2 separate regions of the Homo sapiens genome follow, and region 2 is linked to region 1. The links come from fine-mapping of genetic effects on gene expression. Tissue or cell type: blood mononuclear cells. Region 1 holds a variant in brackets; the other region holds the start of a gene. All regions are shown on one strand. Distances are between the middles of the regions. Region 1 overlaps GUF1 (GTP binding elongation factor GUF1). Region 2 holds the start of GUF1 (GTP binding elongation factor GUF1).

Region 1 (16,064 bases):
ATTATTGTCACTTTATGACCTTCCTGCTGAAAATCTTTAGAAACCAAATATAATTTTGCAAGTCCAGGCACCAATTGTTTTAAAATTAAGACAATAGGAGTATACATATTCTTGTCTGTGATTGGGACAACTTGTAAGCCTAATTGAAATTTTCTTTAGACTTCAGTTTTATAAGTGAAACATTTAAATGTCTGTTTTGACTAACATTACAAGCTTTGACCACATTGTTAAAAGTAATAGCTGAAACTAAGTGCTTGTGTGTGCTAAGCTAGGCTCTGTTTAAACACTTATTATGTACTAGGCATTGCTCTAATTGGTTTACATGTATTAACTCATTTAATCCTCACAAAAGCCCTGTGAAGGGAGATGCAAGCTGAAGAGCCAAATAGGAAATCCAAAGGTCTCATTTATTAATGGCATTTTATGAGTGTCATAGCATTTATTTAAACATAGAGTTGTCATTGGTAATAGAAAGTTAAACAGAAACCCAACTCATGAATCTGAAAATGATCCATTAATAATATATAGTATTGTCCGAAGCCTCCCAGCTGCTGGGAACATTGGGAAGGCATGATATTTGTCTTCAATAAACCATTTTCTTTGTCAGGTTCACCAGCTTATTTTCCTTTCCCCTATAAACATATTCCCCTTGCTTTTGCCCTTGATTTAATAAACATAAAAAGATAACATTTAGATCCATTCACAAGAAACTGTATATGTAATATTTTGATGGAAACATATCTCTTTGGGGAGTGTAATGCGGTAGAAAGTAGACATTTAGTAAAGAGTAAAGAGTAATAAAGGTAATCTCTCAGGAAGTGTAATATTTATCACTTGGACTTTTTTCCTTTTAGTTTTGATTACGAAGATGCAGGCTACCAGACTGCAGAACTTGTAAAAATGGATATTCTACTGAATGGAAATACTGTAGAGGAGCTAGTAACTGTTGTACACAAGTAAGTTCAATAGAAACTAATCATGGAATGTGAAAATACTTTTGATATGTTTTTCATTTATTTTTGTTTGAGCAGCTGCATTTAAAAAACTTCTAAGGTAATTAAAATAGAGTTCACCCTACTAACTTTGCTTTCTCTTTTTTTTCCACACTTCTCTCTAGACTGCTAAAAATAGAACAGAGCTATAATAGTCAAAAAGAACAGTGTCATAGAAATGTTTCCCTTCACCATATTAAAAAAAGTTTTAAACATTTTATAATGATGGATTTAGAATTGGGAACAAGTTTTTTTGTTTTGTTTTGTTTTTTTTTTAGATGGGAGTCTCATTCTGTTGCCAGGCTGGAGTGCAGTGGCGCAATTTCTGCTCACTGCAACCTCCGCCTCCCGGGTTCAAGCAATTCTCCTGCCTCAGCCTCCTGAGTAGCTGGGACTACAAGCGCATGCTACCATGCCCGGCTAATTTTTGTATTTTTAGTAGAGATGGGGTTTCACCATATTGGCCAGGATGGTCTCGATCTCTTGACCTCTGATCTGCCCGCCTCGGCCTCCCAAAGTGCTGGATTTACAGGCGTAAGCCACCGCGCCCTTTTATATTTGTAAAAAAATTATAAAAAGGAAAACCCCCACGTGTTCAAGAAACAGCAGATTGGTTAAAATGAATTACAAAGCACCCATATTGTTATTTTCAGCCATTAAAACTTGTGGAGTAATATTTAGTGACATAAAAATGTCTGTTAAATATAAAGAGGGTAGAATATATCGTAAACACTGATCATACAAAAAAATGCAAAAAAGTGATTAGAAAGATAACTGTTTAAAATAATCATTCCAAAATGTTTAACCGTTTTCAGCGGGTAAGGAAAGAGAATCAAGAACAGTTTCTATTGTCTAATGTTGTATTTCTAAATATTCTGTAATCATACATTACTTTTTTAAATCAGAGAAGTTGTTCATGATTCAGAGAGTAAGAGAGATTTATAAGTAAGTTCCATTTGAACCTCCTTAAGAGATCACCTTTACACTGATTATGCAACTGGCCTAGAAAAATACTTGAAATATTCTTATTTAGGATATATAAACAGTTGTATTTTTCTGTCTCAGAGACAAAGCTCATTCAATTGGCAAAGCCATATGTGAACGGCTGAAGGATTCTCTTCCTAGGCAACTGTTTGAGATAGCAATTCAAGCTGCTATTGGAAGTAAAATCATTGCAAGAGAAACGTGAGTTGAAATTCATTTTTGGTCTTGAGCCAGTTTCAGAAATGATATACCTAAAAAGTGAAAGAATATTGAACATTTTAATTTAACATTGGCCTAAGCTTTCTTACTTGTAGAAACAGTATGATGGTGCTCTCCAGTTTTCTGATTTAAGTAATGACTGTTACTTTGAATTACTTATATAACAGCACTGGGTGATGTGATCTGCAGTTAGTATAACGTATACGAGTTTGAGGAACTGTTTTAATTTCCACTCATATCAATGTCTATACTGAATTTCCTGGGTAAGGAATTTCTTTTATGGTTTTATCCCTTTAGGTAGATTATAGATTAATAGAAACTGAAACTAAAAGGTTTTGTCTTCCAAATGACAAAATTACAATTTTTTTTTAACCCAAAGCATTTAATATTGCTTCCCCACTTCCGCAGAGCTAGGGAGGTTATAAATCAAGGAATGCCAATACCATGTTAGGATTTGCATTCTAGATTAGGGACCTCACATGAATTATAGTAGATATGGAAGACAGGCTAATTTGTGTCGGACACTAGTCTTTCATGAAATGTAATACATAAATCAGAACACTGGCTGGGTGTGGTGGCTCACATTCTGTGATCCCAACTACTTGGGAGGCTGGGGCAGGAGTATTGCTGTGAGACTAGTCTGGGAAACATAGTAAGACCCAGTTTTTTAACAAAAACCCAAAAATAACAATGAAGAACACTGAATAAGCTGCTCTGCTTGTGACAGCAGGTGCAGGATGTGTCTTGTAGCACTTCCCATTTCCTTTCCTTAATGATCCTAAGACTTCTAGGAAATAGGAAGTATCTCCTCAGTTATGAAAAGCTGGAAATTGCTATTAAATTCGACCTTAACCCAAACCTAATGAGGAAATACAACCATCATGTTAATATAGACTTGAGGTTAATTTTAGGCCCACTGTTTGAAATACATTTCATTTCCTAACACTGTTTTGCTTTGGTTAGTTATTCTGTGTTTTGTAAATACTGAGATCAGGCAGAGTAGAAATGATAACTAGGGAACATCCTGGAAAGTGCAATTTAAGACAGTTAGCAATTGCTCATTCTAAAATAAGTGTGTTGAGATAATACCTTAAAAAATTGGTTTTTCTGTCTTAAGGAATACATAAAGATGGAGCTATTTTCAAAATTAGAGTGATCTAGAAATTTCTCAAACATTGTAGAAATAGATTAGTTTATAACTGCTGGGGTGGATATATCAAGCTTCCTAGCCACTCCATCCACATTCAGTAGAGGCAGTAATAAGATAATAAACATATTTTGTTTTTCTGAAGTAGTAGTGTTAATTTTTAGATTGGTAATTTTTAGATTGAGTAAAAAATAACCTAATGTATTTCTTGTAATCAAGGTCACATCATGCTTGAATTTGGCCTAATCAAGCCTACCACAAGCCTTGACCATTTTTTCTTAATGTGTGTTGATAAACATGTTGAATTTATTTGTTCTTTTATACCAAGTACATGAAAATAAATACAAGAGCATTTGAAGTATCTAATTAATATGCTTATGGCAATTTTACATAGGTAATGATACTATCATTAAAATTTTCTAGTAAAGGGGAGATTGTTTTTGGTAAGGAAGTGCTTTTAAACAGTATAATGGAATTATGTACTTAAACGAATTTTTCTCTTTTACAGTGTGAAAGCCTATAGGAAAAACGTTTTGGCAAAATGTGTATGTATCTAGTTGTATTTATTCTACTTTATAACTTTTATGGGCTTTAAATCAAAGGGGGCATAAACTTATTGATTTCCATTGTTGGTTTTTATACATTCTTTGTTTCCAAGTTCCCTTTTTGAATAGGTAAATTTCAGCTTGACCATGGCAACCTGTTCATTTTGCCCATATCTTTTAAGTATTTTTTCATCTTATTTATAAAAATTTACAAAAATATTTATTAAAATTGTTCTTATATGTAATACTAAGGAAGATTTTTACAACAGTTATTTCTATGATCTGGGTAACATGTTTTCTTGATCTAACATATAATGAAAGATTTTGAAAACAATGGCTTTATCTTACAGTTGAAGTCTACCTCTCCTGACATTGTTTTGCCAGTTTGCTGTTATTCAGCTGTTAAAAAATTATTCTTGCACCAGCTCGGTGGCTCACAACTGTAATCCCAGCACCTTGGGAGGCCAAGATGGGCAGATCACTTGAGGCTAGGAGTTCCGAGACCAGCCTGGCCAACATGGTGAAACCGCAGCTTTACTGAAAATACAAAAATTAGCCAGGCGTGGTGGTGCATGCCTGTGATCTCAGTTACTCGGGAGGGTGCAGCATGAGAATTGCTTGAGCTCAGGAGGCGGAGGTTACAGTGAGCAGAGATCCTGCCATTGTACTCCAGCCTGGGTGAGAGGGAAACTCTATCTCAAAAAAAGAAAAATTATTCTTAAATATCGTGAGAGTTGAATGATCAATTCTTTCTCCAAAGGCACATTTATTCCTATGTGATTAAGAGTTACCTATATTAGACTGTGGCTTTCTAGTCAAAATTCCAAGCCTAGAATCAGTAAGGAGATTGATAATTCTTCCTTGACATGCATATTATTATACTAGGTTTCCTTGGGAATCTTCACCTCCATCCAGATTAAATCCTGTATCATTCTTTGAGAAGACAGTAAAATTAGATCTGCTAGGAAGATTAGAGAGATGTCTGCCTTATGGATAATAATTTGGTATGGTTGTTAAGGTTGTACTGATGCCGCTGTAATCATATGATTGTTTCTCTTTAGAGTGACTTAGACTTCCAATGTTTTAAAATATTTTTCAGTATGGTGGTGATATTACCCGAAAAATGAAGCTTTTGAAGAGACAAGCAGAAGGGAAAAAAAAGCTGAGGAAAATTGGCAACGTTGAAGTTCCAAAAGATGCTTTTATAAAAGTTCTGAAAACACAATCTTCTAAATAATTGGTGGGAAAACAAAGAATTTTCATTGCAATTTGTAATATGCTGACAACAGAAAGAAAATTATAAAATTTGCTTGTTACTTTCAGGGTATTCAGGTTCAAATAACCTACTAGTCTTTCGTTGAAAGGGAGTAGTTAGTGGGTAGGCAAGAGCTTAGATTTTGAAGCCATGTTGCCTGTTCTCAAATATCTGTTCCAACCACTCACTAGTAAGGTGACCGTGGCCAGATTAACCTTTGTTTCCTCTTCAGTAAAATCGAGATTATACTACTACCTACATAAGTTGTTGTTGTGAAGATTAAATGAGGTAATACGTTAAATATTCAGAGGTGCAAGACACATAGTAAGCACTCAATTGTAACTACAGTTAAGTCCTTAAATGCCATCGAAAGGTTCTTAGAAACTGACTTTAAGCAAAATGACACGTAGCACAATGTTCTTGAATGATGTCATTTCCTTAAGTGGTTTGTAACATCGATGAGGAAAAAAAATTGGTTTATGCGTCATTTCATTTTATTTTTATTTATTTTTTGAGACAGAGTCTTGCCCTGTCGCCCAGGCTGGAGTGCAATGGCACAATCTCGACTCACTGCAACCTCTGCCTCCTGGGTTCAAGAGATTCTCCTGCCTCAGCCTCCATTACAGGCGTGCACCACCATGCTCGGCTAATTTTTTGTATCTTTAGTAGAGTCGGGGTTTCACCATGTTGGCCAGGCTGGTCTTGAACTCCTGACCTCGTGATCCACCCACCGTGGCCTCCCAAAGTGCTGATTACAGGTGTGAGCCACCATGCCCAGCCATGTCATTTCATTTAAAGTCACAATTTCCATGAATCTCAACAAGTGAGGACCTGCTATATTTTGTTGCATGCAGTTTTTCTTTACGGACACTAAAAGGCCCCATACTTAAGATTCCATCTACTTTAAGTTTAAAGGATTTTCAGAATCACCTTAAGTGTCAAATTTGTTAGCAGGATTAATTGATATGAATTCACTTATTAAACAGTAAACTCAAATAACATAGACATCAAATAACAGACATCTGCTCTAGTTAATGATAAAATGTTTATAGATTTTATCAGGTGGTTAGTTTGAAACTAAATGGTTTACATCTAAATTAAGGGCAGGAGCTGTCTTTCAGACATTCAAAACGCATTTGTGTAAAATGACAGGTGTTTGGTATTACCAGGAACTCATAATGACATTTTAATAATTATTGTCTAAATTTCATAATCGAAGCGATTTTAGAGTAGTTAACTTGAGATTTCACAGCCAGTAAATGGCTGTATTTCTCCAGAGCTCTCAGCTCCCATGTTTATTCAGCCAACGAACAAACCAGACTGCAGACTGTATTAGAGCAAGACAACATCATTTAGCCATTGATTTTTATCTTCTACCTTGAATGAATTGAATGAAGAAAATGTCTTTTAGGGATAAACACTATCAAGGATGAATTTTATACTAAGGTTATATGAAAGAAAAATCTCAAAACCACTAAGCCAAAGGGAAGTCAAGCTGGGAACTGATTGAGGCAAACCTGCCTCCCATTTTATTCCTAAATAAGACAGCCACAAAGATAAAATTTGCTCACAAGGGAATTCCTTATGGACAAAGAACTCAAAGTCTTCACATGAAACAAATGCATAAATGATTGCTTTCTCTGTTTCATGTTTCACTAAGCCAGATTAAGGTATAACTGACTATTCCTCTACTCTCCTCTCACATGTAAATTGTATATTCAGTGAAAGGCTAATCAGAAACTCAAAAAAATGCAACCCTTTCTCTCTTACCTGCCTATGCTTGAAGCCCCCGCCCCTCTTCAAGTTGTCCTGCCTTTCAAGACCAATGTACACCTTACACATACTGATTGATGTCTCATGTCTCTCTAAAATGTGTAAAACCAAGCTGTGCCCCAACCACCTTGGGCACATGTGGTGAGGACCTCCTGAGGCTGTGTCATGGGCACACCTTAACCCTGGGAAAATAAACTTTCTAAACTGACTTGAGAGCTGTCTCAGATATTTTGAGCTTACAGTTATTGTGAAATCATTTTAATTATAAATTAAGTGGAGATTTACTTAAAATCATGTGTAGAAGTAGCCTGTGATATAGTCCTAGATACATACATTATCATCTTATGTATCTTCCCTCCCTCTTCCAGGTTCTGATAAAAACAGATGAAATCTGAAAGACCATGACAGTAGTATTTTGAAAATGACAGTATTTGAAATTAAAAAATTGTAAAAGTGTTCTGTTCTATCACTGCCAAAGGATAAGTTACAAATTGGTTCTTGGAACGTAATATGTACTATGTGCTTGCTATTTAATAATTTACCAGTCTTAGTCTTTTTTATTCAGACTAATTTTACCTTTTTTTAACCTATGACTCTTTAGTTATAGTAGTACAAAAAAGTAGTTTTAGTTATAGTTTTAGTTGTAGTACAAAAAAGCATTTTCTGTAAGCTTAATTTCTTTCCCCTTCCCGCTTTCCCAGTCAGATGACTTTAGTGATTTGGAGTTGTGTGCTTTATAAGTGCATTCCTCAGAGGACTTAATATTACTAAGATTTTAGCAAACACTGAAATATGTTTAAACACTGTTATCAATATTAAAATAGCACCGTTTATTGACTTTAATATGTGACAACCACTGTGCTGAGCTATGTATGCTTCCCTTATTCAATCTATGTAAAAATTTTGGGGAAGTAGCTGAGACTTTTTTATTTCCCTGACAGAGCTGGGATTCAGTGGTTGGTTTCTTGAAAAAGCTAGGTTCTTTGCCTAACAGCAGCTTAGCTCCTCAATTTAGGGAATGAAAGCAGGAATGAAAATGGCCAGAGTTTTCGCTCCTCAGCTTGTGGAGGAGCTTGAGTACATGAACCTCA[ACTAAGCCC/A]CTAACATCAAGGGAAGGAAAATGGAAAGGAGAATTTTTAGACCTTTAAAGCAGAGAAATTACTGGTGAATCATGTAGCACAACAGGTACCTTTAGCTTTTTCACTGTGATGCTGTATGACTTTCTAAGGTAGTCAGCATAGTTTGTAGTAAATGATTCTTATTACTGGAAGTGTAAGTGGAGTGTTACTCACTAGTTATTTAAAAAACATTTATAAGGCTATTAAAACATCATCTGGAATTAAAGCAGCATAATTTACCCCATCCCCCACTTTTAACCATAAAACCCTATTACCAATTTTATTTCATTAATTTATTTGCTATTTTAATATTTTAAGAAACTACATTTTAATCACATAGACAAGCAGATAAGTAAGGCTTCTTCTACCAGGTGGGCTTATGAAATGCAAAATAAGCAAAAGGAGCATTTTTTTGCTCCCCACAGAGGCAAAGACATCTTTTAACCTAACTCTCCTAATGCATGATGGTAACAAACCCAAAATGAATGCAGGTTCACATGTACTATAATTGTTGGGAGTCGAATGCATGTATTCTTCAGGTTCACTTCTGGAAATTTAGATAACTTATTTATTACACGCTTTATTTGAGTTAAAGATAAAAAACAATATACTTTTATGTAAATTGCTATGGCAATGTAGTTTACAGTAATTCCTTTTATATATACTTCGTATTATTCTTTTAGACATTTTATAAGGAATAAAGCTAATTGTATATTAAGTTTAACAATAATCAGAAAATATTCTCCAAAAGAATTTCCTGAAGTGGCTTGCTAGGTATAAAGCTCATAATTGTCAAGATACTTATATTAGGGACATGAACCCAAGTCGTTAAATAAAAATAAGATATTTGTAAAAAAGTGCTATAGAAGAAGGTGCACAAAAAACATGCACTTACACATACTTTCCAAAAGGATGTAAACTGTACTTTTAGGCACTGTCATCTCTTCAAATTTCCTTTACCAATGATATATAGCACAATTTTTGATGTCTAGATGGTGCTGTAGGAAGATGACTAAGGCAACCACGTGCAGAAAAGCATGTGTGTGATGCACAGAAAATATAAAGATTGCATTCCAAAAGTGAAGGTCTGCAATGATAGTTTGTTATCTGAAAGGTTTGGAGTGTCTTGTCATTAAAAAATGAAATATACGCCACTGGAGTCATATCACAAATGGTGCCTGATGTGGACACTCTACCTTTAAAATGACTTTTTAAACAGGCAGACATTTCTATGCTGTTTTATAGGTGGCTATGTGACTTCAGTACTTTATAATAAATAGCCAGTCAATCTTGAGAGCCAGCTACTTCTCTTAAACCCAAGTACAAGATATAAATATTCAAAATATGGAATGTTTAACATAGAGACTCGAATGAAAAAATGACAATCTTCAAAATTCCCCATGTTTTGTCATATTGCATAGCTGAAAATTCATCTACTACTTAGTAAAAAGTGCTCTGTTCATTCAAGCTGAATTTTGCTCCAGTCTCCTTCAGTTTCCATCTTTCATACTGAATAGTGGATCCACAAGTTTATTGTGCACATGCATTAGACCTTAAAGAAAAAAAGCACAGTTCTAGTTGTTTTTATTAATTTTGAACTATCTCATTTACTTTAGACAACAAAGTATTTTTTATAAGACACAGTAAGCCTGTTTAGTTCCCATCTTGATATAGTCAAGTTTATTGAAAAAGTACAAATAGAAATGTTTCAGAATGTCTTAAGTTTTATCTACCTAGCAAATACCAATTTATAATTATGTAACAGTGCAGATCTAGAATGTGTACAGGTACTTTGGGAGTAACCAGAAGAGCATTTCTTGTCTTCAAAGAGATTAAGCATGACAAATTTGAATACTGACTTAGATAATAGGTTTTAATTATATCTAAAAGTCTATGTTGATATTGATCCTCTGGCAGTTCCTCTACTAGACTCCAGCCAGGGGCTCAGAACTGCTGTCTCACTCTTAATACATTACCCTATCCATTCGTCTGGTAAATTACTTTCCAATAGTTTGGCATGTGTATTTATGACAAAGGTTGATTACAAATTCTACACTGAGGGAGGGTTACTAAAACAAGACAGAAAACAACCTGTATTAAATCATTTAATTCAGAATAGAAATTACGATTTTAAATCCGGTAGATTATAACTTTCATTTTGTAATTGGTACATATACTTGCAGACTGCTCTTAGCTATGGAAGCTGCTTGGGAAATAGCTGATCTTCCAGTTACTCCTGTTTTAATGCCTCAGTACTATATTTCTTTGGGGAGAAAAAAGTTCTAAAAAGACTGACCCAGTTAATGAACCAGAGATTTTATATTTTGGAGGGTAAAGAAATGAGTTAAGTTTTCCAGGTATTAAGAACATGGGAGGGTGGGGAAAGGCACTTAATGCGGTTTTGCAGGAAATGGGATTACTGGATTGGAGAGATAGGTTGCTTGTTAGTAAACAGATGTTCCTTGTCAGAAAGGCTGCAAAAAGGACTCTAAAATCCCAGCTTTGAGAAAGACCCACTTTTAAGGGACAAGCAAAGAGTACTGGGAAGTGTTTGTGTAGTAGGAGAAATTCTAACCATAAGAATGGGACTCTAAAGGAGGGAAGGGGGAAGCATTCCATTCACTAGTCCTGCAACTGCTCAACAGCCTACTTGAAGGTCACCTGAAACTTCATGTCCAGTAGGAGAGGGGACAACAAAGATAAGGGTAATATCAGCTGTATGATTTAGAAGATGCAACATTTTCCAGAGTATCACTTTGTAGAGGATCGTTTTTCTACTTAAATAGTATTCATCTGTCATTTGCTAACAACTTTGATTACGGAAAGAATACACAGAGCTTTAAAATACATGCAAATTAAAATATCAGTAAATATTAAAAATTCAACTCCTTTATAAAATTTTTTTCTTTACATTGGATATATCTTTTATACATCAAATAGGACTGCTTCCAAACTAGAAATAATTATTTTGAAAATTCTATTAATTGCTTTTTAGATATTAAGTCAAATATTTACTGTGACTTTAGGTAAAAACTGACAACTTTCTACATACGAATTTTATATAAATAAATAATTGCTACTTAAGTCAAACAGAAATAATTCTTCTGATAAAAATGCACCAGACTTCCTGAAACGTTACCAGAAGAAAGGTTAAATGTCACAGATTCTAACCAATGTCTATACAAAGTAACTTTTATGGTTTTGACTCAAAATGAACTCATTCTACCTTTGTCAAACTACTGAGGTGGAGCCTAAATACAAAGTAAGAGAAAAAAATTCATGATGATGATGTCATATACTAAAAATCAAAGCTGTTCTATTTAAAAAGCAAAAATGAAAAGCGAGAATGAATAAAACAAATCCCCACGTACTAAACTTGTTGTCTTGTGATTAACTTGTATCTTTCAAAAGGTATATACCGTTATATAGGTATATATTGAAATAAACTTGCATTTACTGACAATTTTTATTGTTTTGGATCTAGTTAACCTAGATCTTATCTAGGCACTAAATAAAACCCTTTAAGATTCTGGTCAGCACTTTTTAGTGATGACAGAAGAAAGGGTAGTGATGTGAATGGAATTTGAAGAGTTATGGATGACAATTATAGGAATTTACATCCTCCAGTATTTTGATATACTAGTAACTCAATGGAGGTATGAAAAGTATACAAACTACATTTGAAATGTGTTTATTTAAGAATATTCAATTTCTCTACCCTTTACTAAAATGCTGTAAAATGAGGCCCATATGTAGCCCAGAATGTCTAAATTCTGTCTTCATATTGAAGGAGGTATCCTAACAGGCTGATACCCTGAAACCTCTTCAGAAATACAGACAGCTCCAAAGTGGAAAATACTGTGTCCTCTTGATGCAGTGCAGCTATCCTCTCACGAATGGTCTGTTTCAAAATTTTTCAGAAGAGCTTACAATTAGATGAACTAAAAGAACTAAATACATATAAACATCTACCACCCTTCTATTTTAAATTATCTAACATATGTCGATATACCTTTTTTGGAAGCAGTGATTATCATATGGGAAAAAAGCAGATGGAAATATGGTTTTGATGTAGATGGTATCATACCTAGAGTTTATTCTGGGAGGCAGTATAATAGAATAGACAAAAGCCTGCATACTCCAGAGATCAGCCTGATTTTGATTTCTATTACCCAGCTCTGCCCAAATATGTGCTGTATGACTTTGGGTAAGTAGCTTAACGTCTCTGTCTGTTAAGCCTATTAATTTAAAAATGGGACTATGAATACCCATTTCATAACATTTTTGTGATAAGTAAATCAATAAGTAAAATGCATTTAGAATAGTGCCTGGTCATAGAGATACTGGCTGTTATTAAATATCTTATTAAATATTCACCAAGATATAAAAATCTGATAAAAACCTAATTGTGACAAAATTAGATTAGTACAGGGATTTATCTGGGACTTAATGAGGACTAGAAAATGGCCATGTTAAATGAATCTCCTTAAAACTGGAATTAAAATTTGTGGATAGTGAGGATTCCTTGTAGTCAAGGAATCTATTATTTGGGATGAAATCTGAAGGGTTACATGGGAAAATAGAGTTAAAACTCCATCAAATGCTCTTTTATTCACAAATCAGAAATTTTTCAGTTTTTCAGTTTTTCAGTTTGATATATTTGTGGCTTGGTAAATTAGTAATTTAAATGGTAAAAATATAAATGACTAGAAATAATCTAAGTGTTAATAAGGAAATGTTTAAATAAATTATGATTTATGTACTTAACTATCCATTAAAATGCTTCCAAATATTTAGTAAAACAGGAAAATGCTCATGAAACATAAGTACAAATACAAAACTATATACAAAGCATGATCAGCATTTTGTTTAAAAATAGACTATTTTCAGTGCTTGCCAAATGTCAGTTATTTGTATAACACCTTCAAGATATTTGCCATATTCACACATATACATGAAATATGAGTTGGTTTTCTTTGCATTGAATTAAAAATTTAAGATTATATACTTTATTTCTGAGTATGAGATGCTATAAATTGTAAGACACACCATTTTATGTACCACTGAGAAAAAAATGCTACCCAGTAAGCTATGATCTGACACCAGTTTTAAGACACAGTCCAACATCAGCAAGATCAACGTGTATTAGAGCCAATCAAATATGGTAGCTTTTTTGGACCTTGTCTTAAGCAATAATATCCAAAAAATATAGCTTTGATTTATTCAGTGTATTTTCCAATAGGCATTAAAATAAATACCTAGTTACTAGAGTAAAAAAGATTAAAAGGTATAATCATGTAGCAAAAGTAGCATACATACTACATAGTGAATCACTGACCTATCTATATGATCAACTATGTAACTTTTAATATCAGCTATGTAAATACAGGTGCTTTATGAAAATTACCTGTTTGTACAGTTTGCTTACATATGTGTAATATGTGGAGCTGACTCTTAAATCAGAGAATAGGTTCTACATTGGGTATAGGCAAAATGTCCCTTGAAAATCTCTTAAAACCATTATATCAAGCATATGTGTTTTGTAATACACAGCCTGGTAGAGTAAGGTTTCTGAATTACTGAACTAGACTACAGGAAAAAGGAAAATCAACATGAAGTCTGGGCAATCAAACTCCTGCTTACTTGCAGAGTTTATTCCATACTATTTTAACATTTAGACATTATAACTTTAATATATGGGAATAAATTGGCTTAAAATTGTAAAGATTAAATTAGATAGTGGGAGATCTCTTATCCACTGATTAGGTTCTAAATTAAGGTTAGAGGGGAGTGAGGAAGAGGGATTGAGGTGGGACTAGTAAACATGAAAAGAAATCCAGAATGGACAAAGATACATTTTCTTTTGGGTTATTTGGTCTTGTATATTCAATATGAAAGTAAATTATTAAACCTTGGATTTCAAGAAAAATTGTTTACTGAAAATAGAGACTGAAGAGATTCTCTTCATGAAAAAAAAAAAAAGGTACTACTTTGAAGATACTATTATCTGAGGTGAGAACTTTCCATTACTTGAAAGAACTAGCTATGTGTTGCCACTTTTCAATAGGTCACAGTGTGAGATTTAACCCCACAGTCACAGTAAGTTTTAATTGTCACTCACAACAGATTATCTCAGTCGGCTTTTGAAATTCAGTGCTCACCTTTAAAGTATTTCACAGTTTTAACTCTTAATTCTAAAGTAGCATCTTCATCGCATACAAAAATAGTCCGGGGATGCTGCTGGAAAGCGGAAACAGTCCACATGTGATTGACTCCTTCTTCTATTGCTTTGTACAGGGCAAATGCCTTGTGTGCCCCTGTTATAAGGATCATTACCTGAAAAATTATGAACATCAATTGTTAAAACTTGTTCCAAATGAGTAAGAAGCTCTATTTTTTTTAAACGAGAACTTAAGCACCAATATTTTTTTCTGAGAGAAAGAAAAATACATAGCTCCACATAATAGTTCAAGGTATTCATTTCTACTTTTTAAGATTAACAAGCACAAAATGTTGCTTCTAGTTTAACAAAGCAAAACAATATCTTGTTATGGGTTATTAATGCAAACACTATAATACCTGTAACTTTTAACATAGTGAATGATGATGTATAAAAGAAACCTGGGACAATGAAGAAAAAGAAACAAAAGGACTGTGTTGCAAAAGCAGAGTTACAAATCTATAAATAATTTATACAATCTAGAATGATACACCAAGTTGCTGTAGTCTAGATAAGCAAAAGATACTATGTCAGAAAAGCAAAGACTCTAAAACAACAGGTAATTTGAAGAGTTATCAAGAAAAGCCTGAAGAGCATTTCACTGAACATGTGCTATTCAAAGTTGACTCAGAATAAAAACTGGATTTAAAAAAGGATTAGGGATCTACTTAAACATAGGAACTGTCTTATAAGCACATAGGAACTGTCTTATAATCACATATGACTGATATTACCCTTATAAGCTACAGAAAATCCAAGCTCTTGGTCCCCAGGCCCTAAATGCCAATGAAATAATGCAATGACATGTTGCAAATGTGAATGTGTATGTGTCGGAATCTTTTCTTTATCATGTTTAAGCTGGAAATTGATCCCATTTAACACCTCATCTACACACATATTTTTGTAATATAATCTTTAAACTTTTTTTCCTCATTACAATTGTTTTAAAAAACAATGTTAAAATTGCTGTAGTTCTAAAATATAACAAATTTTGTATTACATATTTTATAACTAGACCTAAAATGGGAGGAAATACTCTGCACTCTCCTTGAATTACCTCAACTCCTCAAAACACCACCATGAGAGAAATACTATTCTTACTCATATTTTAAAGATAAGGAAACTGAGGCATATTCTGTAACTGGCCCAAGGTTTTGGTAAGATACAAACAAGTAGTTTTTTTCTACAGTGCATATTCTTAGCGATTAACAATTACATTACATTGCCTCTTGTAAAAGTTCTAACAATTAGACAATATGAGCTAAGAGTCTTTTCATTATGGATGCACACTCTAAAAAGGTAATGGGACAGGTGGCAAGAAATCTCAACATGAAGTATATATACTGAGGAAAAAAAAGACAACTAAACTTTTATTGGTGAGAAAAGGTAAGTACATACCTGGCATTACCATTATGAAGGGAGTGGAGGGAAAGGAGGCTGCTGGAAGGGAAGCTTAGTATAGGATGAAGAATTCATTATTGGTGTTTATCTATGGCTAAGGCATAGATAAAACAAATTGGTCTTTAAATAGACTTGATCTGATATGTGATTAGTTATATCATACCTGTTCTACTCTCAAGGAGATTATTTCTCATATCATGGGAAAGGACAAACTATATGGAATAATTTGTTATGTTTGTTCAAACTGCAGAATCCCTAAATTTAAAGAAGCAAGCTAGGTGTGGATACCAGGTGATTCTTATGTACACTAATGTTTGACAACCAGTGCTCAGGCAGATGTTGCATTGATACAGCTTTTTGCTACTTAAGTGTAGCAATAACACTATTTTAAAAGGTTATGAAATAAGCTA
Region 2 (14,277 bases), 21 kb before region 1:
TTGAGACGGAGTCTAGCTGTGTTGCCCAGGCTGGAGTGCAGTGGCGCAATCTCAGCTCACTGCAAGCTCCGCCTCCTGAGTTCACGTCATTCTCCTGCCTCAGCCTCCCGAGTAGCTGGGACTACAGCGCCCGCCACGATGCCTGGCTAATTTTTAGTGTTTTTAGTAGAGACGAGGTTTCACCGTGTTAGCCACGATGGTCTCGATCTCCTGACCTCGTGATCCACCCGCCTCGGCCTTCCAAAGTGCTGGGATTACAGGCGTGAGCCACCGCGCCCGGCCTGTCTTACCTAGATTATTAAAATAAAAAACTCTCTTTCCCTTTCATTCTCATCACCTCATTTGATTTCTTTTCATTTTACACATCGTTAGAGAAAGCCCCCTAGAGCAAAAAATTCTGTTATTTCCTTCCTTACGATGGTTTCTGCATAGATTAATGGTGAAATGCTAACTAGTACGTCCCTGTTCAAAGCCCTTCACAAAGTGATACAAACTCTTCTTTCTATGATTCCTCCTCTACCCTATACACTTTCTATTTTGTGATATGAAAATATTTCTAAAGATCAAATTTTTATGCTCAAAATTTGAAAAAATATAAAAGTCTAAAAAACTTAGAATAATTTAAAAATGGGCCTCAAAAGTGAATTGAAAGATGTATTTTATACTGTAGACACATGGTGGCACCATTTTAGCAGCCTAGCAGCAATACTAGAGAACCTTTGTTAATATTGTGTGATTATGCTCTAAAATTGTGCAAGCGCTTTAAATGGCTAATGTGATACTACTTTAATCATTTATTAATGGTATTTTTAGTGCTAGAAATGCTCCACAATATCAATAACTTTGAAACAGAATTTAGAGGTGATAGTTATTTATACATTGTTTTTATTACTCTTTTGTTATGGGCTGAATTGTGTCAACACTTCCATGTTTATATGTTGATGTTCAAACCCCCAATATCTCAGAATGAGACTGTATTTAGAGATAGGGTCTTTAATGAAATAATTAATTTAAAATTATTAGGATTGGCCCAAATCAAATATGACTAGAGTCTTGATAAGAAAATTAGGACACAGACATGTATAGAGAGAAGACCCTGTAAGAACGCAGAAGGTACTGATCTGCAAGCCAAACAGAGAGGTCTCAGAAGAAACCAGCTGTGCTGATACATTGATCTCAAACTCTTAGCCTCCAGAATTGTGAGAAAATAAATATCTATTGTTTAAGCCACCAAGTCAGTCTGTGGTATTTTGTTATGAAAGCCCTAGCAAACTCATATTCCTTTCGGTATATTTACAAATATAGAAACCATACAATAGTTGTGGATTAATGTACTATATGAGTGCAATCTCCATATTATATATTTATTTTTACAGAAAAACTGAGTCTTGATTTATGAGTTTGTAAATTATTTAAGCTCTTCAGAAGTCCTCGCCTCAAATAAAATGCTACTGTCCTGAATGTTGGCCCTGTTCTCTACTGACTATTAACCCAATTTATTGTGTGTTTTTCCGCATTTGTATCCTTGCTCAGCTGAGCCGAGTTTACTGGAGTGGTTAAGGGTGCAGGCTCTACAGCTGGACTGTGTGGACTCACAGCCCTAGTTCATCACTAACTGTGACTCTAGACAGTTATTTAAAAAACGTTGGCCACATTTTTCTTGGAAATCTATGAAACAGAGATAATAAGAGTGCCAGCAATAGAGGGCTCTGTGAAGATCGAATGAATTGATACAAAGTATGTAGAATAGTACTGGGAACTGAGAAAATGTGTTATGCTGTTGATTATTCCTCTGCTTAAGTTCCATTTATTTCCTTGGATAAAAACAAAAAACTGCCTATCCTTCGAAGCACATGAAAGATACCTCCTCTTTGAAGTTCAGTCACTATACCTCCTGCTTCTTCTCAAGTTGAATAATAAAGAAACTTGTGCAAAGATATTGCAAGAGATGAGCTTTAGTTTCCAAAAATTTGGATTCAAATTTTTTTTTGCATTTATCTATCATGTAATTTATCTATCATGTAATTTTAGACATTTTGCTTAATTTGTTTGAGTTTCCACAGCTAGTATATAACCTGACACAGTGGAGCTCAGTATTTTTCTAACAAATATGTTTTTCCATTTGTAGGCTGGGAAACATAATGTCAGCCTTATAAGATACTGCAGTTTTCTAAAGTGTGGGACAAATTCCTGTGGAGGCACCAAGATAGATACAGACATGGTATCAAGGATACTGTGTTATTCAGATAAAGTTTTTCTTTCAACCCTATTTAAATGCTTCTTGCTAGGTCAAAGAGAAAAATCTCAGTTTGAGGCTAATATTTTTAAATTCTTTTCTAATATCTGCTAATCTCCCTTTTGTAATCCAGACAGACCAAACCTACAATTGAATCACATTTTTTATTCACTACAGTTATATTTACTGTTACTCTTATGACAGCTCATCATGCTTTCTCCATTAATGGTATCTACGTTTTCTTTTAAAAAGAATTCATTTACATATAAAGGTAAGTTAAAGAAAAATATAAAGTACATAATATCGGTATGAGGATTGACAAAGATTCTTGACCAAACTCTAGCCTGACTCTTCTAAGCCCTCTTATCAGCAAAGCCTCAAACTTGCCTATAAAAACTACAGACCCTCAGCACAAATGATTTCATCCACATCCTTCCCCTACCGGTTTGCCCACACATTAAAAGACTTGAACAAACTCATATAGTTTATAACAGCTCAAGGCTGCATCTCTAAGATGAAGCCCCCTTAAATTTCTGTCTGAGAAAGCTCAAGACTGACAAAATAATTTATTTGTTCCAGCCAACATGTGAAAGTAGCACTCATTTCCTAGTGTCTGCGGGAAGGGTAGGAGCCTTATTTCCATAAGCAACAGTTTACAACCCAGATGGATTTCAAATGGACCATTCTTCCGCCATTGTTTTTTGTAAATTTCCGTTTCCCTGACTTTGATCAAGCCCAGTTGTTCTCTTTCCCTACTCCCGCATTCTCCTTTTAAAATACAGTCGCCTCTGGACAAATTGTAGTTTAGTTCATTCTGGATCTTATTCCCGATTGCATTAGTATATCACTATAATAAAAATCTGTCTTCACCACTTTAACTGGTGTCTGCCTTTATCTTTGACAGGATATGGTGAAAATTAATGAGGGTAATTGTGCAAATTATGGAAGTCTGGGCAACATTGAATATAAATTATTGTGTTTACTTCAAGATAGTTGTTAAATTCATTCTCTTACAAGTGTGACAGAATTAGTCGTCTATCAAGTACTGTTTTAATTCATAAAAGTTCCAAGAAAGGGCCAGGCGCGGTGGCTCACGCCTGTAATCGCAACACTTTGGGAGGCCGAGGTGGGCAGATCACGAGGTCAGGAGTTCGAGATCAGCGTGACCAACATGGTGAAACCCCGTCTCTACTAAAAATACAAAAATTAGCCATGATTGCTGGCGCGCGCCTGTAATCCCAGCTACTCAGGAGACTGAGGCAGGAGAATCGCTTGAGCCCAGGAGGCGGAGGTTGCAGTGAGCCGAGATAGCGCTACTGTACTCCAGCCTGGGCGACAGAGCGAGACACCATCTCAGGGGGGAAAAAAAAATCCAAGAAAGAACTGAGTCTGGTACAGAATTCTTGATCCTAAGAAATCCTCCAAATGAAGAAACTTTCAAAGGCTCTGGAAACAATACGAATGATTCTGTCTTCAGTCACAATGATGAACTGAACACAGCTGTCATCTCCCTCCTTCGCACCAAATTCTGGATATTCCAGAAAAGCGCAAGAGAAATAGTGGGAGACAAACACTGGATGCAATCCTCCTATCACCTGTTTTATCCCCCATTCTTACTTCGTCAGAGCTCATTCCATGAAGTGGTAACTTGATGACGATGGAAACATTGGGGGTCCAGCATGGAACTTTTTCCCACCTTTACTTCTTGCCAAAACCTTCCTGGATTCAGTATTGCAATCAATGTTATGGCCCGTTTCCTTTCAGATGCACTTCAAGATTAGCTCTGTCACTGACAACATGGGGAATACATTTCGACCTCCAGATTTTAAAAGTGCCATTATTATTTTGCCATTAGGTAGAAGGCTAAGTCTCAACGTTGTGCTAATAATAGCATCTTTAAGTCCCTGGACTAAGACCTCGGCTCCTGGTTCGGGAATCAGACTGCCTGGGCGGCACTCCAGGCTCCACAGCTCCCCACCTGTGAGCTCCTGGGCAAGTCACTCGGTCCGGATTTCCAGAGGTAGTTTGGGGGAACTGACAGTACACACACCACAGGGCAGTAGTAAGAAAGAGACAATGCAAAGGAATTGGCACAGCACTCAGCAGACAATATAAGCTAATATGTACTCTGTCTACACCCTGCGTTTTAGGGAGTCAATCGAAAGCCTCCACTCACGTGACCACTCCACTACCCGGCGCCAAGACGCGCTGATGTCACGACAGCGTGCGGCGTGCAGACGTCGGCAAGCTGCGCCGCCGCTTCGGGTTGCTTCCGGATCTGGTACTTGGGCAGAGCTCCCCGGGGTTCATTGTCTTCGCTTCACAGGATCTGTTTGAGTCCTGTCCACCGGATCCTACGGGGGGTACCTTCGAAAAAAAACGGGCTATGCTGCTGTTGCGTGTGGGTACCCTCTCCTGACGCCTCCGCCGCCCGGGTCATGTGGACCCTCGTGGGTCGGGGCTGGGGGTGCGCACGCGCTCTCGCGCCACGAGCCACTGGGGCCGCGCTTCTGGTGGCCCCGGGGCCCCGGTCCGCGCCGACCCTTGGGGCTGCTCCAGAGTCCTGGGCTACCGACAGGCTCTACAGCTCCGCAGAATTCAAGGTGACTGCCCCCTGGAATCTGATTTAGCCAAGTTTTCAAACGTTGGAGTGCCCCATGCGATCTTGGACATGTATAGGGCTTTCTGGGACTAGCTCTGAACCCTGCTTGCAACTTGGTACAGGGAGGCAGAGCGGAGAGTGTGAGCACTGCTCAGGTTCCCGACCCTCCACTCCTCACTAGTGTGACCTTGGGCAAGTCACTAACTTTGTAGGTTTTCTCATTTTCAATGTCAAATGTTGATTTGTTTACGCGAGCCACTGGTCGAAGTGCTTTGCGTTTATTCATCTATTTAATTCTAAAAAGCCTACTAAGCAAGTTGCTAGTAAATATTAATATAACGTCCATTTTCCTGCAAATTAAGTAGCTATGTGGCCTGGGCAAGTTACTACATTGTCACTCTCCTACTTCATTTGTTGAATGCAGAACTGATCAAACATCCAGTGGCTAATTTGTGAGATTTGTGTGATGTGAGAAGTGGACTTTTTTAGACTAATACCTAGAATGCAGGAAGTTCTCGGTCTGTCTTTGTAGTTTTATTTCATTCTACCTCAGCCAGAGCAAACCTGTGTAATTTTGACTCTGGTGGGAGAGGGTGGGAGGTTCAACAACTCTGATAATTGTGAATGGATACATTTTAGTCAGAAAAGTGAAGTGACTGAAGGCAAGCTATAAGTAGGCAGAAAGACAAAACCTTAAATTAATCAACTTTGGCCCTAATATGCCTGTGTTTTTAAAAATGGATTTATATTGCAATTCGAAGTATAAAGATGGTGCAATTCTCTATACCTTTTGAACTGAAGGGAAAGAAAATCTACAGGGCAAACATCAGAATTAGTTTTTTTTCGGCAGACTTTCAGCTATAATTGTGCTTTTATTATCTGTCTTTATGGGGCTATTAAAAAACAAAGCTCACGTGAATTTTATATTTCATTGTAATTTCATGGTTTTGCTGATTGTGAAATATGCAGTTGATTGGAAAAAAATAGAGTACAAAAAACTGGTATATTTTGCTTGATAACAATTTCTAGCAATTTGTGATGTGTTTCAGTAAAACGTTAAAGAAGATGTGTACACGAAAAACCAGGAGTTCCATTTTAAAATATTTTTAAGTTTTAAGTGATAAGTCTTTTGTTGGATGTCATCTTTTTTTCTTTCTCACCAGAGAAGCTGCAAAGTAGCAAAATTGTATTTAAAATAAAATTTTGAGGCTCCATTAGAGACACAGATTTTTAAATAAATCTGATTCCTGATTAAATGTGTGATAGGAGCAGAAAATTTATCTTCTTTCAGCTTTTCTGTAGCTCCATTGCCTCAAAAGTTTTACTAGACAAGGTATTCTCAGGCCTTTAGAAGTTCTAGGTGTCTCATGTTCTCCATTCACGATAATAAATTCAGTTCCTGATTGGCCCTAAAAATTGTGTAGAAATGTTAAGGGATTATGATTTAGCTGTATAGTTACCTTTGGCTATTAAACTGATGTTCCTTGTAATATGAACTTAGCCATACATGTCTTTTTCTTAGAATAATAATATAAACAATATAAATGCTAGAAATGATATTGTTCAACGATTAAAAGAATATTCTTTGAATTGGTATACTTGTTTGATAGTATGCCAAATTTATACTCCTAAATGTGGTATTTCCCCTTTCTAGGAAAAACTTGACATGTCTAGGTTTCCTGTTGAAAATATTAGAAATTTCAGTATTGTTGCACACGTGGATCATGGCAAAAGTACTTTAGCTGACAGGCTCCTAGAACTTACAGGTATTTCATTTATGTTACATACTTAACTGATGGCTGCGAGTTATTGGGAATTACTTTTACTCTTAAATTTTAATTTTATAAGTAATATTCTCTTTTTTTTTTAAAGCCCAGAGAAATATCAATAAGTGTTTCTGTTTATAGGGACAATTGATAAAACAAAGAATAATAAGCAGGTTCTTGATAAATTGCAAGTGGAACGAGAAAGAGGAATCACTGTTAAAGCACAGACAGCATCTCTCTTTTACAATTGTGAAGGAAAGCAGTACCTTTTAAATCTCATTGATACACCGGTAAGTTTAATATTAATTTTGCATGTATTGTTAAAGTCAACATTGTGTCAGTAGTGCAAACAGATCCTTGTTTAATTTTTGAACTGAGTATTAAACATCTGCCTTTGCTTTTTGTTTTCTCAGTGTTCTTATGTTAGTGTCAGTTGTTTCAAAAGTGCAGGCTACAAAAAAGAAACGAATATTTAACAGCTTTTATCAAGTAAAGTCAATAAATTTGCCATAATGCTCTTTCCTAAAAAATTAACTCACATTTACAGGTATCAATATTTTTGTTTCTCAGGGCCATGTTGATTTTAGTTATGAAGTATCCAGGTCACTTTCTGCTTGCCAGGGTGTTTTACTTGTGGTTGATGCAAATGAGGTAGGTATTTTTCATTTTGTATGATGTGATATGACATGACTATTTGGTTGTTTCAAGAGTTTTTCTTTAAAATGTGTTTTGGAAATAGAATTTTTGTGTTTGAAAAATAGATTTAATCTGTTACTTACTGAAAATCATATGGTTTCATCCTGTTAATCTGAAATATTATTACAATAAAGCATTCTCTGGAATTGACTAGTTTTTAAATTGGAATTGTTCAAAAGATTGTTGTATTTTTTTGAAGTGTGACATCATATTGTCAATGCATCTTACCAAAAAAACCCCACCAACTTTAGCAGTTCTTAATCTGAGGTTTCTATATCCATTTTTAGCAGATCTTAAGAATAAATCATTAGTTTTCAGATCATTTTAGGTGATTTTAAGGCAATAATTTGGAAGTATTAGGTTTTTAAAAAATCAGTAACATTACTAAGCTCTTTTGTTGTGTAAGCCGTAAAGACACTCAGCAGATGACCATGTAAGAGCTGTGAATATAAACTTTTGTTACATGTTTCTCACAAACTCTTCATTCAAAACCCAACTTTTTTTTAGTGGTGGTGGTGACCGTGTTGTGTTAAGCCGTTAAGCCTTTCCTGATCCCATCAAGGAAAGTCAATCTCTACCTTATGTAGGCAGTACTGGCCTTTATAAACTACCTTGATGACTGTGTTCTCTAATAAGCTTTGAGGTCCTTGAGAGTCCATGTTACATCTTTTGTTTCTCCAATGCCTGATGTAGTTTCTGGCACAGAAAAGGCCCTCCAATAAATGCTTTCTGAACTGAAAGGAATTATTACAGAGGATGATTCAGATGCATGGAAAAATAGGTATCATAGTTGAGCTGCCGTGTACCTTTCCTTAAAGGCTTCCTATCTCAAGCTTAGTAGACTGTCTGTTGGCTCACTCTACTTGATGTGATTATTGCTTTACCATCAGCGATTTTCATATTGACCCCAAAGACATAAGTTGGAGAGAAAAGCATGAAGGGTAGCTACATGGCATTTTGTTTAATTTTATTATTAGCATAACGCAAAATCTCTTGATGAAGATGTATAGAATGGTCTTAAATTACAAGTTTTGTGATATATAATAGAATGGTCATCTCAGTATCTTGTATCTTGATATTTTCAGGGAATTCAAGCCCAAACTGTAGCAAACTTCTTTCTTGCCTTCGAAGCACAGCTATCGGTAATTCCAGTTATAAATAAGGTAATTACAATGAGACAACAGTGTTGCTATTTCACTTTCTAAAAGTACAATTAATGTTTAAATGTCAGTTGTACTATTCATTATATGAGGGATCACCAGCTATTTATTAAATATATTGGTGGGATTTATCTCTTTGAATTGTATATAACAGAAGTGCAACTGAAACTCACCCTTGCACAGAATTGAGAAGGTAGTTCTCCTGAATTAACTTGTGGTAGCTGAGGGCCATTTCTGTAGGGAAGGGAAGCAGGGCAGATGAAACATGTTTGTCAGATTAAACCATACATAGGAAAAGAAGAGAAGTTTATAATCTAGGAAGAAACAATACAACACATGAAGCATGACAATTTAGTGCTAAACTGAGCTCTGTCTATAAACTTCCATTTCATATTTTAAAATTAATTTAGAATCTTAATTTTAAAATCTGCATTGCTTTAATTATATTTCTTGATAATGGAGTTAAGTTTAAAAGAAGGCCATAGGTAAGACAGCTTGTTGTCAGACTTAATGTTGTATTTAACTTAACCTTTAAAATCAGTTCACATGCTGCTTAATTGATAAATTACTACTGATCTCTTCTGCTGCCCTGGGTAGCTAACTGCTTAAGTTTTTTTTGCAAGCTCTGCTACTTAACTTCTCTTTTTCAATCATGGTTATTAAATTATACTGCTAATATATAGATTATTTTACTGCTTTTGAAAAAATATTGTAGAGGGGTCAGTTAGGTTAAAGTGGGTAAGCTTTTAATTACCTCCGAATACTGTTAATACATAATACATCTTATCTTTATTATACTTCACATAATGGATTTTTTTTTTTAAAGATAGATCTGAAGAATGCTGATCCTGAAAGGGTTGAAAACCAAATTGAGAAAGTGTTTGATATTCCAAGTGATGAATGTATTAAGGTAAAATACGTTCCTAAAAAGATTATACTTTGAAAAAAGTCTCAAGTAATTGGGCTAAGTGAAATTTCATGGTATTTGATAACCTGGCATTATATGCTGTTTTTTATAGTTTTACAAACTTCTTTTACTATTATTTCCTTTGATCCTTATCAAAAGCCCTTTTTATATTGTTAGGACATACAGAAATTATTGCGATGCTGTAGTTAAAGGAACTGAGGCTCAAAGGTTTTATCACTTTCCTAAGATCACAGGTTTAGTTAGCCAATGTGCCAGGACTAAAACACAGGCCTTCTGAAACTCCCTGCAGTATTTCTTGTGTGTCAGTTTGCCCAGTGGAAATACTGTCTTTGAAGAGCAGGTTCAAACTAATTTCAGGGCTTTTGTATGTATCATTCTTGGAACTGACAAAAACCTATTTTATAAAAAGCTAGTTGTAGTGCTAGGAAACAATAGATTTTATTTATACCAAAGTTGCTACCATTTTAAATTTGAATTTTTATTTACCTTTGAAATGATGATCTGCTTGTTAAACAGCCACAGCCAAACTGCTATACTACATGGTAGTGTAAAGTATGTCAGCACAGCAATGTAATGTTTTTCTTTCAAGCTAATTTAATTTTCAAAAGAGCAAGTTATATATGGTTTTATATTTTGGATTATGTTATATTAAAATACAATTAACTATTCTGATTTTAATCTTAATAAAATTCATTCAGATTCTTATTTGGTATATGCCAGCTAAGAGTATGGCAGTGAATAAGACAGACAAGACCCCTTCCTTTCTGCAGACAGTCAATAAATAAGTAAACAAAGAAGTAAGCATAGGAATTATTGACTAGGATAGAGATTGTCAAGGAAATTCATTCGACAAATTGTTATTATTCTAGGTGAAATACCATCATTAACAGTGAAAAGTCTTTTTTCTTAGAGAGACGTTATGACATGGAATAACTTAGCAAAAGCGTCTCTGATAAACTGAAACGTGGAGGAATGAATAATTTTCAGAAAAACATTCCAGGAAGAGAAAAGAGCATGTGTAAAGGACTTAAATTAGGAAAAGATTTGGCATGTTTACTGATCAGAAAGGTTGATTGGATGAGAAGGCTTTGTAGGGGTATGCAGGAATCAAGTCATGCTGGGACTCGTGCTGTGCTGAAGAGCTTGAAAATTATTCTAAGACAATGGAAGGATTTTAAAGCAAGAGAAACAAATTAACCAGTCATTCAGGTAGCCTTACAGAGAATGGATCAAAGAGGTATAAGAAGAGATACAGGGAATCCAGCTATTAATGGTAGCCCAGATGTGAAATTACTATGGCTCAGTATTAACTATCCATATGAAAAGGAGATTATGATCCAGGAGGAAACAATATACATAAAACATAACAGTTCATTGCTAAACTGAGCACTGTCTACAAACCTCCATTTCATACTTTAAAATTAATAAAGAACCTTAATTTTAAAATCTGCATTGCATTAAATGATGTTTCTTGATTTGGAGATAAGTATATAAGAAGCACAGCTGCCCATAGGCAAGATAGCTTGTTGTCAGATACAAGAAACGAACCAGACCATTTATTTGATTTCTTTTTTCCAGTAATGTTAAGCTGTTCTGTATATGGGCATAGAAAAAACACATAATTGGATGCAGTCAAGGTTGAGGTTTTGTCAGCTGCCTCTAATAAGAAGAGAACAGAAAGTGGTTGAACCAGAGTGAATGTAAATGATGGATCTTGGAGTCCCATCTGGGAAAAGATAGAAACAGAGTGGAGGGTGAAGCTGATGGACAGCATCAAGTAGTATATTCAATAGTTACAAGTTAAGGACTATTGTAAAGAAAGTACTACAGTCTAGAGCAGTAGTTGTCAGTGGTGGGTGGTTTTGCCCCTGGGCAAATATTTGGAGATATTTTTGGTTTTCACATCTTGGGAGGGATGCTACCAGCATCTTGTGGGTAAATGAGGTGCCCTGGTTGCTGCTGAACATCCTGTAATGCACAGGACAGCCTCCCAAAACAAAGAATTATCTGGCCCAAAATGTCAGTAGGGCTGAAACTGAGAAATCCTAGTCTAGAGTGAATGTGAAGAGTAAGAAGTTTGAAGTCAGGATTTCAGAGATAGTCCATTTATTACCAGTGATAAAGGTCAGTCATACCATGTGGCTTGAGTGTTGGCTTGCTTTTCTGGTGTGAGAACACTAAAGTAGTAGTAAGATGCCTTATGGTTTTATGCCATCCACATACATTGTTTATCCACACAACAACCTTGAGATTTAGGCAGAATATGAATAATCACTTCATTTTTTAGATGATGAAATTTATGCTCAAAGAGATAGATACTGGTGAAATACATGGATTCAATGCAAAGACATGATTGTTACCCAGATTTCGAACTATTCCTCTTTCAATACCATAATTAGGACTCTCTTGTAATTCCATTCTAGAACTGTAGAACTACGTAACTATAATAGAAAAAGTATTTGTCAATATACTGTTTGCTTTGTTCTTTTCCTTTTGGTGTATTTCTCAAATTGATAACTATTGGAATTTTTTTTTCCTTCTGATCATAAGTCACAGGTCATCAAGATAGAAAAGTATAGTCTTAACTTTAAATGCTTATATTTTTCACATGTATCTTTTTAGATTTCTGCTAAACTTGGAACAAATGTTGAGAGTGTTCTTCAGGCAATTATTGAAAGAATCCCCCCGTGAGTATTTGGTGATTTTTGTACTAGTTGTCTCTATTTAATAGTTCAAAAACTGTCCATGTTTAATAGTTCAAAGACTGTCAGCTTGAACTGTTATTTTAGCTTAATGGATGTGGCAAATATTCTTGCAGGCAGCGAGAATAAATTTATTTGCTTTTAGTAATACATAGAAGGCAAGTACAGTAAAGTAAAAGAAAAAGTAAAGATGATTGATAGAGGTCTTTTCATGACAATCATTATAAAATATACCTCAGTACATTGGCAGTTATTTTCCTTTGCTTTAAGCTGAACAAATATATTCATAAATAATTTGTTAAAACTAGAGGTTATTAAATCTAATATATTTTATAAAAAGGTCTTTTTATTTAGGCTGTTGTGTATCAAACTTTCTCAAGAACTCAAGTACAATATCTAAGTTGAAAATAAGAATTTTATTAAGATTTTAATTTAGTGTATATATATTTACTTTTTACTTATATTTACTAGTCCTAAAGTGCATCGCAAAAATCCTCTGAGAGCTTTGGTATTTGACTCCACCTTTGACCAGTATAGAGGTGTGATAGCCAATGTAGCATTATTTGACGGAGTGGTTTCCAAAGGAGATAAAATTGTATCTGCACATACTCAAAAGACATACGAAGTTAATGAAGTAGGAGTCTTGAATCCTAATGAGCAGCCAACTCATAAATTGTAAGTAATCTGCATTAGTAAAATTAAAATGCATTTGTATGTGGTTCTATTTCTGCATTTTTCTCAACTTGGTATGCTTAGAATGATCCTCATTTGGTAACTTAAAAAAAACTATTTAATGCAACTATACAGTAAATGCTCTGTCAAGGAATCTCATGGGAAGGACAATAGAAACGTCAGTTGATACTTTTTTTATTCTAAATGACTAGTTATAACTAGATTTATGATCAAGGGTAGATTGGATCCTATATCGATGTATTTGATGAGACAATGAAAGAGTTAGTTCCCTCCACCCATATCCATATTAGGTATCATTTTTGACATTTCTTCATAACTAGATTTTCCAATGTAAAGGTGGTATAATAGAAACCTTAATAAATCTTTAGTGTGGAATTCATGGTAAAACCTTGATTAAAATTCTTGGGGAGTAGGATTAGCAAGGGTAGTGTGCATTAGAAAAACATCTGAATTGACTTGTAAAAGAACTATTTATTGAGTGCCTACTCCGTATCAGGTACTGATGAGGCATGACCTTGGGTACATAATTTGAGCTTTGTAAGGTCCTGTTCCTTGTCTGTAGAAATTATTGAACCAGATGACTGTCAGATCACATTTGAGTGTTTAGTGTTATATGTCTAAAAACAGCACTATATTGAGTCAGAAAGTCTATTTTTATTTTACTGAAATATTTTAACATCTATTTATATTCTGCCATATATACCAAACATTATCACATCTTCATTTAAGGTTCTTAAAGCTCATTCTAAGTGTAAATCATTTTAGTTTTGTAGGGATTTTTTTTTTTAACTAAGCTTAAACTGAACTCATAGGATTTGCTCTTTTGCTACAGGAGGAATATCAAGTGTCCAGTTTGTTGAGAGTTCACATTTTTCTTGGATAAAAATTTACCTTTTTTTCCTTTGTTAAAGAACATTTTCAACACAATTCATTAATAAAAGACATCACAAGTGTACTTATTATAATGCTTTTGTACTTACTAGTTTCACTGTATTTACATATATTTTAGAAACTGCTGTTTAAATTGCAAAGGTTGGCAGAATCATGAAAAAGGCATTAGGTTTATAAGTAGAGAGGTCTAATGGATTGTAAGACCTGGTGTGTTCATTTGCTGACAAGCTTCAGAGTTTGATAATTGATATGTAGCACTTATTTTCAAAGTGTATGGAAAGTTTGGAAAGTGTATGATAGTTTCCTGGGAAGGTAGAACTAATTGTGAGTTATGTGCTTGAAACATTAAAGCAGTAAATATTTGCATATAATAATTTTATTTAGATATGCAGGACAGGTGGGCTATCTGATTGCTGGGATGAAAGATGTCACTGAAGCGCAAATAGGAGATACATTATGTTTACATAAGCAACCAGTGGAGCCCTTGCCTGGGTTTAAATCAGCGAAACCAATGGTATTTGCAGGTGAGGAGTTCACAAATTCAAAGGTTGAGGGCCATGATATTTTTAAACTAAAAGTCTGTCTCAGTGGTTAAGGAAAAAA

The links. PIP is the estimated chance that this variant, and not a neighbour inherited with it, causes the effect.
Region 2: GUF1 starts here. The variant in region 1 is fine-mapped to the expression of GUF1 in blood mononuclear cells (TOPMed, PIP above 0.99). The same link has a PIP of 0.9 or more in esophagus mucosa, fibroblasts, lung, pancreas, subcutaneous fat and thyroid.

Annotation. Positions count from the first base shown.
Region 1 is chr4:44,693,558-44,709,621 of GRCh38, forward strand. GUF1 (GTP binding elongation factor GUF1) reads left to right here. Exons shown (of 17, transcript NM_021927.3): 14 at 855-956; 15 at 2,058-2,177; 16 at 3,851-3,887; 17 at 4,987-7,371. The coding sequence ends at 5,124. GNPDA2 (glucosamine-6-phosphate deaminase 2) reads right to left here. Exons shown (of 7, transcript NM_138335.3): 6 at 14,195-14,369; 7 at 8,238-9,585. The coding sequence ends at 9,524. Among named protein-coding and RNA genes, the nearest start is that of GUF1, 23 kb to the left of the region's middle. The variant ACTAAGCCC/A (reference allele first, on the strand shown) is at 8,007.
Region 2 is chr4:44,673,949-44,688,225 of GRCh38, forward strand. GUF1 (GTP binding elongation factor GUF1) reads left to right here and starts at 4,472. Exons shown (of 17, transcript NM_021927.3): 1 at 4,472-4,839; 2 at 6,493-6,604; 3 at 6,746-6,894; 4 at 7,175-7,255; 5 at 8,386-8,463; 6 at 9,287-9,370; 7 at 12,011-12,075; 8 at 12,562-12,765; 9 at 14,059-14,198. The coding sequence starts at 4,675. RefSeq lists an enhancer at 3,691-4,579 and a silencer at 4,651-4,810.